Homo sapiens: one gene and its partners. The protein of the gene in region 1 purifies or fractionates together with the protein of each later gene. This does not show direct contact. Each region holds a gene or a part of one and is shown on either strand. Other genes may lie near its edges.

Region 1 (3,500 bases):
ACCCCACCAATGTTAGGTGTTGAGACGCGCTCGTTCTCCCTCTAACCAGCCAAGTGCCCTTGGCGAGCCCTGGCCCTGAGCTTTGGCCCCAGAGTGTCCTCGTCGGAAGAAAAGGGTAGCCTGACCCGTGGTTCCCGACCAGGGAAAACCTCCCCCTCAGAATCACCTGGGAGAGCCTTTCACATTTCTAAAAATTTCTTGAATCAGTGACACATTCATCCAGCTCAAAAATTTAAAAAAATATAAAAAGATCTGTAGTGAAGAGTCTCACTTCCATCTCTATTCCCGTCTATCCCAGTCGCCCCCGACGTCGACCCCAACACCCCAGGTAATGACTACGTTTATTTGTTTCTTGCATATTCTTCAAGGAGCTCTTTATGCAAATACACACACACACACCCCACACAGACCCCACACACACACCACACATACACACAACCACACCACACACACACACCACCACAAACACCACACACACACCGCACACCACATACACACCCCACACACACCACCACACCACACACACACACCACCACACACACACCCCACACCACACACACACACCACACACACCACACACACACCACACACACCACATGCACACTACACACCACACACCACACACATACCACACACACACCACACACACCACACACACCCCACACACACCACACACACCACACACACACACTACACACACCACATACACACCACACACACCACATGCACACTATACACACCACACACACACCACATACACCACACACACACCACACACACCACGCACCACCACACACACACACCACCTGCACACTACACACACCACACACACATACAACACACACAACACACACACCACCACACACACATCACACACACCACACACACTACACCACACAGACACACACACCACACACACACATATATTTTTCCCCTCATGGAGTTTGATAAAATCACACAAGACACATGTCTACCCATGACCCAGCAATTCCATTCCTAGGTATTTACCCAAGAGAAATGGAAACGCCCACACAAAGACCTGTATGTGAATGTTCACAGCAGCCTTATTCATAGTAGGCAAAACCCGGAAACAAATCAAATGGTGAATGGAAAACAAATTGGCATGTCCGTGTAGTGAACTATCATTCGGCAATAAAAAGGAATGAACTACTTATGCGTCCAGTGACATAGCTAAATCTCAAATACATGCTAAGCGAAAAAAGCCAAATCAAACAAAATAAAATCCATGCTGTATGAGTCCATGTCTATGACATTGTAGCACAGGCAAAACTCATCTTTTGTGACAAAAAGCAGATCAGTGTTTGCCTGAGGCTAGATTCAGGGAAATTAACTATAAAGGGGCCTTAGGGAACTTTCTAGATGATGGAAATGTTCCATATCTAGATTATGGTGGTGGTTACATGCATGTATACATTTGTCAAATTCCATCGAACAGTATCCTTAAAATGAGTGCATTTCACTGTATGTAAAATTACCTCAATAAAATTTTTTTTTTTTGAGATGGAATCTTGATCTGTTACCCAGGCTGGAGTGCAGTGGCGCGATCTTGGCTCACTGCAACCTCTGCCTCCCGGGTTCAAGCAATTCTCCTGCCTCAGCCTCCCGAGTAGCTAGGATTACAGGCGCCTGCCACCACACCCAGCTAATTTTTGGTATTTTTTCTTTTTTTAGTAGAGATGGGGTTTCACCATGTTGGCCAGGCTGGTCTCAAACTCCTGACCTCAGGTGATCTGCCCGCCTCAGCTTCCCAAAGTGCTGGGATTACAGGCATGAGCCACCACACCTGGCCTAAAATTAATTTTTAAAGATCTCTTAAAAAGCAGACACCAGCCCCAATCTCAGACCCCTTGAGACAGAATTTCCAGGACAGGGGCCATCCTGCTGGACAGTGGGTGCCGAGAACACCTTGCCCATTTATCTGAGCTCCCTTCTGACTCTGAAATCTGGAGCCCCACCCTCCTGGGTCTAGCTTCGGGGCTGCCTGGGTCAGGGTCCTCTGGGAAGCCCCTGCAGTGCCCCAGAAGGGACGAAGCTCACAAGGGGCAAGGCAGGCAGCCCACGGGGCAGGAGGGAGCTCAACTGGGCGTCCTAGGGAGAGGGCAGTGAGGGGTGCCAGTGGGGAACCCCTCCCAGCCTGACCCCCACCACACCTTTCTGACCCCCAGATTTCCAGGCAAGGCTCACCCGTTCCAACTCGAAGTGCCAGGGCCAGCTGGAGGTCTACCTCAAGGACGGATGGCACATGGTTTGCAGCCAGAGCTGGGGCCGGAGCTCCAAGCAGTGGGAGGACCCCAGTCAAGCGTCAAAAGTCTGCCAGCGGCTGAACTGTGGGGTGCCCTTAAGCCTTGGCCCCTTCCTTGTCACCTACACACCTCAGAGCTCAATCATCTGCTACGGACAACTGGGCTCCTTCTCCAACTGCAGCCACAGCAGAAATGACATGTGTCACTCTCTGGGCCTGACCTGCTTAGGTGGGTAACTAGCCAGCCACACGGGCACCCTGGGCCTGGGCGCCAGCCCCGAGGAGACTGCCCGAGGCCTGTGATCTAGGGTCTGAGCAGGCTGGTGGAAGGGGTGGGGGGACCCCAGTTTATAACCACTCCCCAAGACACATACCCAGGAGGGGGACTGGAAGGGGCCAGCACCCATCTGTAGGATGGCAATGGAGGACCTAGTTCTGCCAATCACTGACTTCATCGTCGCCTCTGAACCTCCATTCTCCCATCTGTGAAGTGGGGTGGTACTTCCCGCCTCGCAGGAGGCTTAGAGACAACGTGTGGGTCAAGTGGACCTGGTGTGCCAAGCGGCACTCATGCCAGGAGCTCCTGGTCCTCTCAAGGCTGCTGGCTGCCCCCGGCCCTCCCCACACCACCCATTCCTCCCTCACCAGAGTGTCTCATTGCAGAACCCCAGAAGACAACACCTCCAACGACAAGGCCCCCGCCCACCACAACTCCAGAGCCCACAGGTAAGAGGATTCTGAACCCCCCACAGGGAGTCAGAGCTAGCAAATAAAAACCCAGGATGCCCAGTTACATTGGAATTTCTGACAAAGGTGGAAATGTTTAGTATTGGTGTGTTCTACGCAATATTTGGGACCCCATCACCTCCCAAGGCTAAGCGTTAGTCAGTAGTTGTCCACAAGTTGGGGCCAAACAGCAAGGAGTGCCCAGGAAGCCCTCGGCGCTCAGGGTGGCTCCCCCTCCTGCTCTCTCCTCTCCTAGCTCCTCCCAGGCTGCAGCTGGTGGCACAGTCTGGCGGCCAGCACTGTGCCGGCGTGGTGGAGTTCTACAGCGGCAGCCTGGGGGGTACCATCAGCTATGAGGCCCAGGACAAGACCCAGGACCTGGAGAACTTCCTCTGCAACAACCTCCAGTGTGGCTCCTTCTTGAAGCATCTGCCAGAGACTGAGGCAGGCAGAGCCCAAGACCCAGGGGAGCCACGGGAACACCAGCCCTTGCCAATCCAATGGAAGATCC
Region 2 (3,500 bases), on another chromosome or scaffold:
GTTAAAAACATAAGAAAGATTATTCTTCCACTTTAAATAACAACACTAAACCAACACAGCAGAAACGGTTCTGTTGGGCACTTAATTTTCCTTCAAAAACTTATTTTGGCCTCTTTCAAAAAAGTAGAACATTGAAAAGATCATCAGATTTATAGCACTAATCCCAATAAACTTTTTTGGGATTTTCATTTTGAAGAACAGCTTTTAAAACCTACTGCTTAACTCTTAGGAAATATTTAATCTTATTTGAAACTGTAACATGCCCTATACTTTGAGATTTGTGGAGAGTTAAGCTAGGCTTTCTCTTTTTTTTGCCTTTACAAGGGTAACTTTATAACCTCCATTTCTTGGCTTTTTTCTTTTTAGTAATCCCTGTATAATTGGAAGAAGTTAGGCAAATTTTGACATTCTCAAGGTTTAAAGAAAGTTTAGTACAATATTTATTTACTAACCAAAGTGTCTCCTGTTCTCTTTGTGCGAATATCTGATAAGCTGAGTGATTAACATACTGTTCTACTGGGAGTGGATAATGGTTGATATTTAGGTGACTAAATAGTCCCTGTAACCCAAAGTCTGGCTCTTCCCCAGGGAAATTTAAGTATACACACAATCGCCATGTCTTCATAACATTGTAACATTTTGTAAGCTATCAAAAATCAGATTGGATTTTTGCTAATAAGAGCAAGTTGTATTTTGTGTGAAACTTGAGCCATTAAAATGACATTTGCAGGTTTAATATAATCATAGCTAACATCTCTCAAGCACTTTTTATGTATCAGTGGGCAGTGTGATTTAGTGATTTACATATACTGTCAGCCCTTTCTATTCATGGGTTCTGCATCAGTGGACTCTACCAACCATGGGTCGAAAAAATACAATAAAAAGATACAGTATAACAACTATGTACATAGCATTCACATTGTATTAGGTATTACAAGTAATCTAGAGATGATTTACGGCATACAGGGGGGCATGCATAGATTTTATGCAGATACTATGTCATTTTCTATACGGGACTTGAGCATCTTGGGCTTCGTTAGCTGCCAGGACAGAGAGGTGGAGGGTCTTGGAATCAGTCCCCCACAGATACTGAGGGATAACTAGTTTGTAATACTTATTACAACCTGTAGTGTAGACTTTATACTTACATATTAGAAAGATGAGGCTTAGAGGGACGGATTTGTGCAAGGCCACACAAGTAGTATATGGCAAGAGAGAAAGAGAACCTGATACTAGAAGGTGGATGGTCTAAGTTTTGGCATCCAAACTAACAAATAACTTAGTTTCTTTAGGTTTGTATCCTTTCCTGTAAAATAAGAAGGTAAAGTCAGTGTTTTAAAAATTTTTAGCTGTGGAACTCTTTTATAGAAATAGAATCTTCCAGATAAGTATTATATAACATACGGGATTTTAATTTGAGTAGTGACAGTTGTTTACTTATATTAATAAAGAATTTTCTTCTTAACTTCATTTTCTCTTTATCATTGTTTTATGGTAGAAAAGGTGTATTTCATTATTTCTCCAGGAATATACTGGGAGAAATAACTTGTAAAATAAAATTGCATTGTTTTTATCTTTTAGGTGGGAAGAATTATTTTAAATGTCTGAATGTTTTAAGTATGTCATATACAAATATATAACCAAAGCTCACATTTTCTGAAAAAAAAGGGGAAAATAAGTCATTATTTTTGGCTTTGTATCTTAGAGTAATTGCTTTTGAAATGTAGTGCAATTCTAGAAATCTGGGGTAATATATATATATATATTTTTTTTTTTTTAGGTCAGCAGCCTTGTTTTACATATTGAAGAAGCCCATAAACTCCCAGTAAAACATTTTACTAATCCATATTGTAACATCTACCTGAATAGTGTCCAAGTAGCAAAAACTCATGCAAGGGAAGGGCAAAACCCAGTATGGTCAGAAGAGTTTGTCTTTGAGTAAGTCTTATTTTATCATTACATTAATCATTTTCTTTTACCATATTGCATTTCTTTCTGTTTTTTTGGTCTCTGTATCTAAACCATCAGAACAAGGTACCATATCCAGGTGTTCTAATAGCATATATATATATATATATTTTTTTTTTTTTTTTCTGTTGTTTGTTCACCTTTATTTGTGAAGTGCTATGCCCTTGGTTTTTCCACTTAGTTATTAACATGAATTAGCAAGTCAAAAAACATTTACTAACCCACAAATACAAAACATTTACTAGGGTTTCCAGTACTTATTTGAATGAATTATTAGTTTAGGAGGTTAAAGATGGTAGGAAAAGTGTGTAATCTGCGTGTCTTCTGTATACCAAATAATAAAATATGTTGTGAATCTGGTTTTAGGTCTAGCACACTGTTTTTTTTTTTAAAGCAGAAATAGGGGGTTTATTTGATACTAGAACTAAAGAAATAAGGTAGTTTGATGCCAAAACATTTTGTTAATTCTTTTTCTCCTTGCTCCTTTAGTGATCTTCCTCCTGACATCAATAGATTTGAAATAACTCTTAGTAATAAAACAAAGAAAAGCAAAGATCCTGATATCTGTAAGTTGATACAGAAACTTTCTAAAATAGAAAAAGCATGTTTTATATACTTTCAAAATTCACAATGAAAGTCTTAAAATAGAAATTAAAAAAACAGAAATGCAAGTAGTATAATTTGAGATAGTTTCTTTCTGTACTTCTTAAAGTATTGATTATCAAGAAAGAATATACCTAAGATAGAAAAAGACCAATATGGTTCAACTGTACACACTGTTAAGCAATTAAGATTAAAATATTTAGCCACCCTCCTTTCTCCAATGAATAGGAAGAATAAGGAAATGATTACAGTGGTCTTTTTGTAGGGCTTGCCCTCATCCCTTCTTTCTACTTTTTAGGTTTTTCCTGCTTTTTTTTTTCTTTTGAGATGGAGTCTTGCTCTTGTTGCTCAGGCTGCAGTGCAGTGGTGTGATCTCGGCTCACTGCAACCTCCGCCTCCCAGGTTCAAGCAATTCTCCTGCCTCAGCCTCCTGAGTATCTGGGACTACAGGCGCCCGCCACCATACCTGGCTAAGTTTTGTATTTTTAGTAGAGACGGGGTTTCAGCATGTTGGCCAGGCTGGTTTCAAACTCCTGACCTCAGGTGATCTGCCGGCCTCGGCCTCCCAAAATGCTGGGATTACATTACCATATAAGTAAAAAAGTATTCTATTTAAAAATTTCCCTTAAACTTGAATGTCATTTATTCTATTTAAAAATTTCCCTTAAACTTGAATATGTCACTTATTCACTTCTGGTAGTCAAAGGCTCCCAGTTCCTGTCCTCAGCAGCACAGCTCCTTCCATCCTGCTGCTAAAACAGTTGACAGTGAGATTTACCAGTTCACATCAGGGTGAATTAGGTTAATACCTTCTTAAAACTCAGGCTTAGGGAAGGAAGTGATATGTATTAACAGATCAAAGCCTGAATATTTCTCTATAAAATGTTTATTCTGTAGTTTTTTGTAGTAATTTTAGTTTTCCATTACTT
Region 3 (3,500 bases), on another chromosome or scaffold:
CCATTCTACCACGTAAAATAGGCAAAATGAGGGTGTTGAAATGAATGTGACTTGGAGACAGGTGGGGAGGGGCAGTGTATGCTGGGCCTAGATATGTGGTTGGAGTGTGCGTGGCTGATCTACGGGTAGAGGCTGGTGATCCGGAAGTGCCCGGCAGAGGCTGAGACTTTCCAGCCTGCTTTATAGGAAGCAGAACCACAGTTGATCTCCCTCCTTATACCCCAAGCCCGGACTATATCCTCAGGCCTGGGACACAGGCTGAGCAGGGCAACTGGGCCAGAGAATTTGAAAATGAAAGGTCAGAGCACTTAGGAGCTGAGAGCCAGCATGTTGGGGTAGGCTGTTGTGGGTAGAACCCCAGGCTGGTGACCTGCGGACCTGGTTCAAATCCCGGCTCTGCTGTTGGCTTGCTGTGTGAGTTAGGCAGGTTCCATCTCCTCTCTGGGCCTCAGTTTTCCTATTTGTAGATTAAGAATAATGGCCTTCCCTTGCCTCCGACTAACTCTAAAGGCTGTTGGGAGGATGAAATGAGACACAGCTTGTGAAAGAATTAGGTGTGTTCTGAAGCTCTCTACAAAGGTATTATCATTAGTACCACTAGGATTATGCAGACACGTTTTGGGGGCCCACTAGCTGGAAGACTGCTCTTGGCACTCTGGTTTTTTTGCTTGGCTTCAGTACCTCATCTGTTCTGGAGTCCTGAGAGGTGAGTGCAGAGACCCCTGTCTGGTTATCTATTTGTGGACCACTGTCTTATATCTGGCGCAATCGCTGAAACTGATTTTCCAGCTTCAGAGATGCAGAAGGGTCTCTTGAAGCATTATTCTCAGGAACATCACTCTTCATAATTATTGGTTACCACCTTCCTGCCATCCTTTCATGGCATCTCCTCAGCAACCCTGTTCACAACACGCGCAACACAGCGTGTGCCACTCGCAACATGCTGACAGGTAAGGACCTTGATAAATATTGAGGCTGGAAAACATTGGCTGGGGATCTTGTGGAGCCGAGGCCCTGTCACTGGCATTGAGCCACTCACATACTCTGTAATGGAGACCCCAGAAATCACATAGGGTCCCTGCCCTCAGGAAGCTTTCAATGCTGTGGCCAAAAAATGACATGCCACGGAGTGGTTACCAGCAGTACTGGATCATGTGAGCTCAGTGCCTGAGTTGTAAGGAAGCGGCGGAGGCTCGTGGAACAGAAGGGAAAGCTGAGGTTGGAGAAATGGTCCCTCCCCATAGCATAATGGCAAGGGGCTCGAACTTTAGGGTCACACACTTACCGGAGGAACAACTCATTGCTCATCTTTCAACCATTGTTTCCTTATCTGGGAAACAAAATGATAATGTATTATCATATTGATAAAATGTTATCTGTGGCAGCTGGGTGCGGTGGCTCACACCTGTAATCCAGCACTTTGGGAGGCTGAGGTGGGCGTATTGCTTGAGCCCAGGAGTTTGAGACAAGCCTGGGCAACATGGTGAGCCCTCATCGCTACAAAAAATAAAAAAATTAGCCAGGTCTGTTGGTATACGTCTGTAGTCACAGCTACTCCAGAGGCTGAGGTGGGAGATTGCTTGAACGTGAGAGGTGGAGGTTGCAGCGAGCTGAGATCGTACCACTGCACTCCAGCCTGGGTGACAGAGTGAGACCCTGTCTCTTAAAAGAAAAATAAATAAATAGGCCGACCGCAGTGGCTCACACCTGTAATCCCAGCACTTTGGGAGGCCGAGGCAGGTGGATCACCTGAGGTCAGGAGTTCGAGACCAGCCTGGCCAACATGGCAAAACCCTGTCTCTACTAAAAATACAAAAATTAGCCTGGCATGGTGGCGGGCACCTGTAATCCCAGCTACTTGGTTGGCTGAGGCAGGAGAATTGCCTGAACCCAGGAGGCAGAGGCTGCAGTGAGCCGAGATTGTGCCATTGCACTCCAGCTTGGGCAACAAGAGCAAAATTCCATCTCAAAAAAAAAAAGAAAGAAAAATAAATAAATAAATAAATAAGTTATCTGTGACTTTGATGCGAACTGCTTGGAAAGCTGGACACACTGGGTCTTTTTTTTTTTTTTTTTTTTTTTGAGACGGAATCTTGCTCTGTCACCCAGGCAGGAGTGCAGTGGTGCAATCTCGGCTCACTGCAACCTCTGCCTCCTAGGTTCAAGCGATTCTCCTGCTTCAGCCTCCTAAGTAGCTGGGATTACAGGCATCCGCCACCATGCCTGGCTAATTTTTGTATTTTTAATAGAGATGGAGTTTCACCATGTTGGCCAGGCTGGGCTCGAACTCCTGACCTCAGGTGATCCACCTGCCTTGGCCTCCCAAAGTGCTGGGATTACAGGCGTAGGCCACTGTGCCCAGCCTGACACACTGCGTCTTGAACTAATGAACTACCTGTGTACATATCTGTCTGTTCAGATCCATAGTCTCTGGCAAATTGCATAGCCATAGCCCCTTCCTTCCAGCTGCCTTTTCTGTAAGTTGTAGATGGTAACTCCTGCCTTGTTGGGTGTTGAGAGAATTCAATTAATTAACACATATAAAATACTTAACAGAGTTCTTTTTTTTTTTTTTTTTTTGAGATGGAATCTTGCTCTGTTGCCAGGCTGGAGTACAGTGGTGCAATCTTGGCTCACTGGAACCTCCACCTCCCGGGTTCAAGCAATTCTCCTGTCTCAGCCTCCTGAGTAGCTGGGACTATAGGCGCCCGCCACCACGCCCTGCTAATTTTTGTATTTTTAGTAGAGACAGGGTTTCACCATGTTGGCCAGGATGGTCTCAATCTCTTCACCTCGTGATCCGCCCGCCTTGGCCTCCCAAAGTGCTGGGATTAGAGGCGTGAGCCTCCACGCCCAGCCAGAATTCTTGGTATATACTTGGTATTCAGTATGGGTAGGATCATTAATACATTTGGTTACAAGAATAGAACCCAACCAGTCTGATTACTAGCCGAATGCAGCCTCCTCAAGGCCTCTCTGTCTCCAGCATCATGAGCAGCCACCTAGCTGTGAGGCACACTCCCCAATTATTGTGTGTCTGCATCTTTCTGACATAACCCAACTCATAGATTTAATCTCTGCAGACTTTTCAGAGCCAGGTGGCGTCTGGTTTTCACCTGTTTCCCGACCACCTGGAGATCCCCACACTTGCTGTGACTCCCCTCACACCCCCAGTCTCTGGCCCTTGATCTGCTGCCTCCTGGAAAGCGTCTAGCCTCTGTAAATAGGGCATTTGTTTGGGTTTTCCCCCCAGCTCCTAGGTTAATATTTCACAGGGTGAGTACTGCTCCAAGGCTCAGAGCTTCTGGCTCCCCCAACCTCTCTGTCCTCTGGGTATCAGGACACTGGTGGGATCCCATGCTCCCACCTCCAGACTTCAGTTTCTCTTTCCCTCCCATTGTTTGGATGGATGGACTGAAGACCAAATATTTGGTGAGAAGCGGGGGTCTGCTTTAGGTTTGCATCCCACTCTCATCAGTTTTGTGATCTCAGGCAAGCTT

The links.
Region 2: the proteins of CD5 (region 1) and RASA1 purify together in Homo sapiens (affinity purification with western blotting; one study listed by BioGRID and IntAct). This does not show direct contact.
Region 3: the proteins of CD5 (region 1) and ZER1 purify together in Homo sapiens (affinity purification with mass spectrometry; one large-scale study listed by BioGRID and IntAct). This does not show direct contact.

Annotation. Positions count from the first base shown.
Region 1 is NC_000011.10:61,115,989-61,119,488, forward strand, and holds part of CD5 (T-cell surface glycoprotein CD5 isoform 1 precursor), read left to right. Parts: intron 1-2,186; coding exon 2,187-2,492; intron 2,493-2,926; coding exon 2,927-2,989; intron 2,990-3,245; coding exon 3,246-3,500. UniProt on the Homo sapiens protein: Lymphoid-specific receptor expressed by all T-cells and in a subset of B-cells known as B1a cells. Plays a role in the regulation of TCR and BCR signaling, thymocyte selection, T-cell effector differentiation and immune tolerance.
Region 2 is NC_000005.10:87,372,383-87,375,882, forward strand, and holds part of RASA1 (ras GTPase-activating protein 1), read left to right. Parts: intron 1-1,780; coding exon 1,781-1,938; intron 1,939-2,457; coding exon 2,458-2,534; intron 2,535-3,500. UniProt on the Homo sapiens protein: Inhibitory regulator of the Ras-cyclic AMP pathway. Stimulates the GTPase of normal but not oncogenic Ras p21; this stimulation may be further increased in the presence of NCK1.
Region 3 is NC_000009.12:128,765,428-128,768,927, reverse strand, and holds part of ZER1 (protein zer-1 homolog), read left to right. Parts: intron 1-3,500. UniProt on the Homo sapiens protein: Serves as substrate adapter subunit in the E3 ubiquitin ligase complex ZYG11B-CUL2-Elongin BC. Acts to target substrates bearing N-terminal degrons for proteasomal degradation with the first four residues of substrates being the key recognition elements.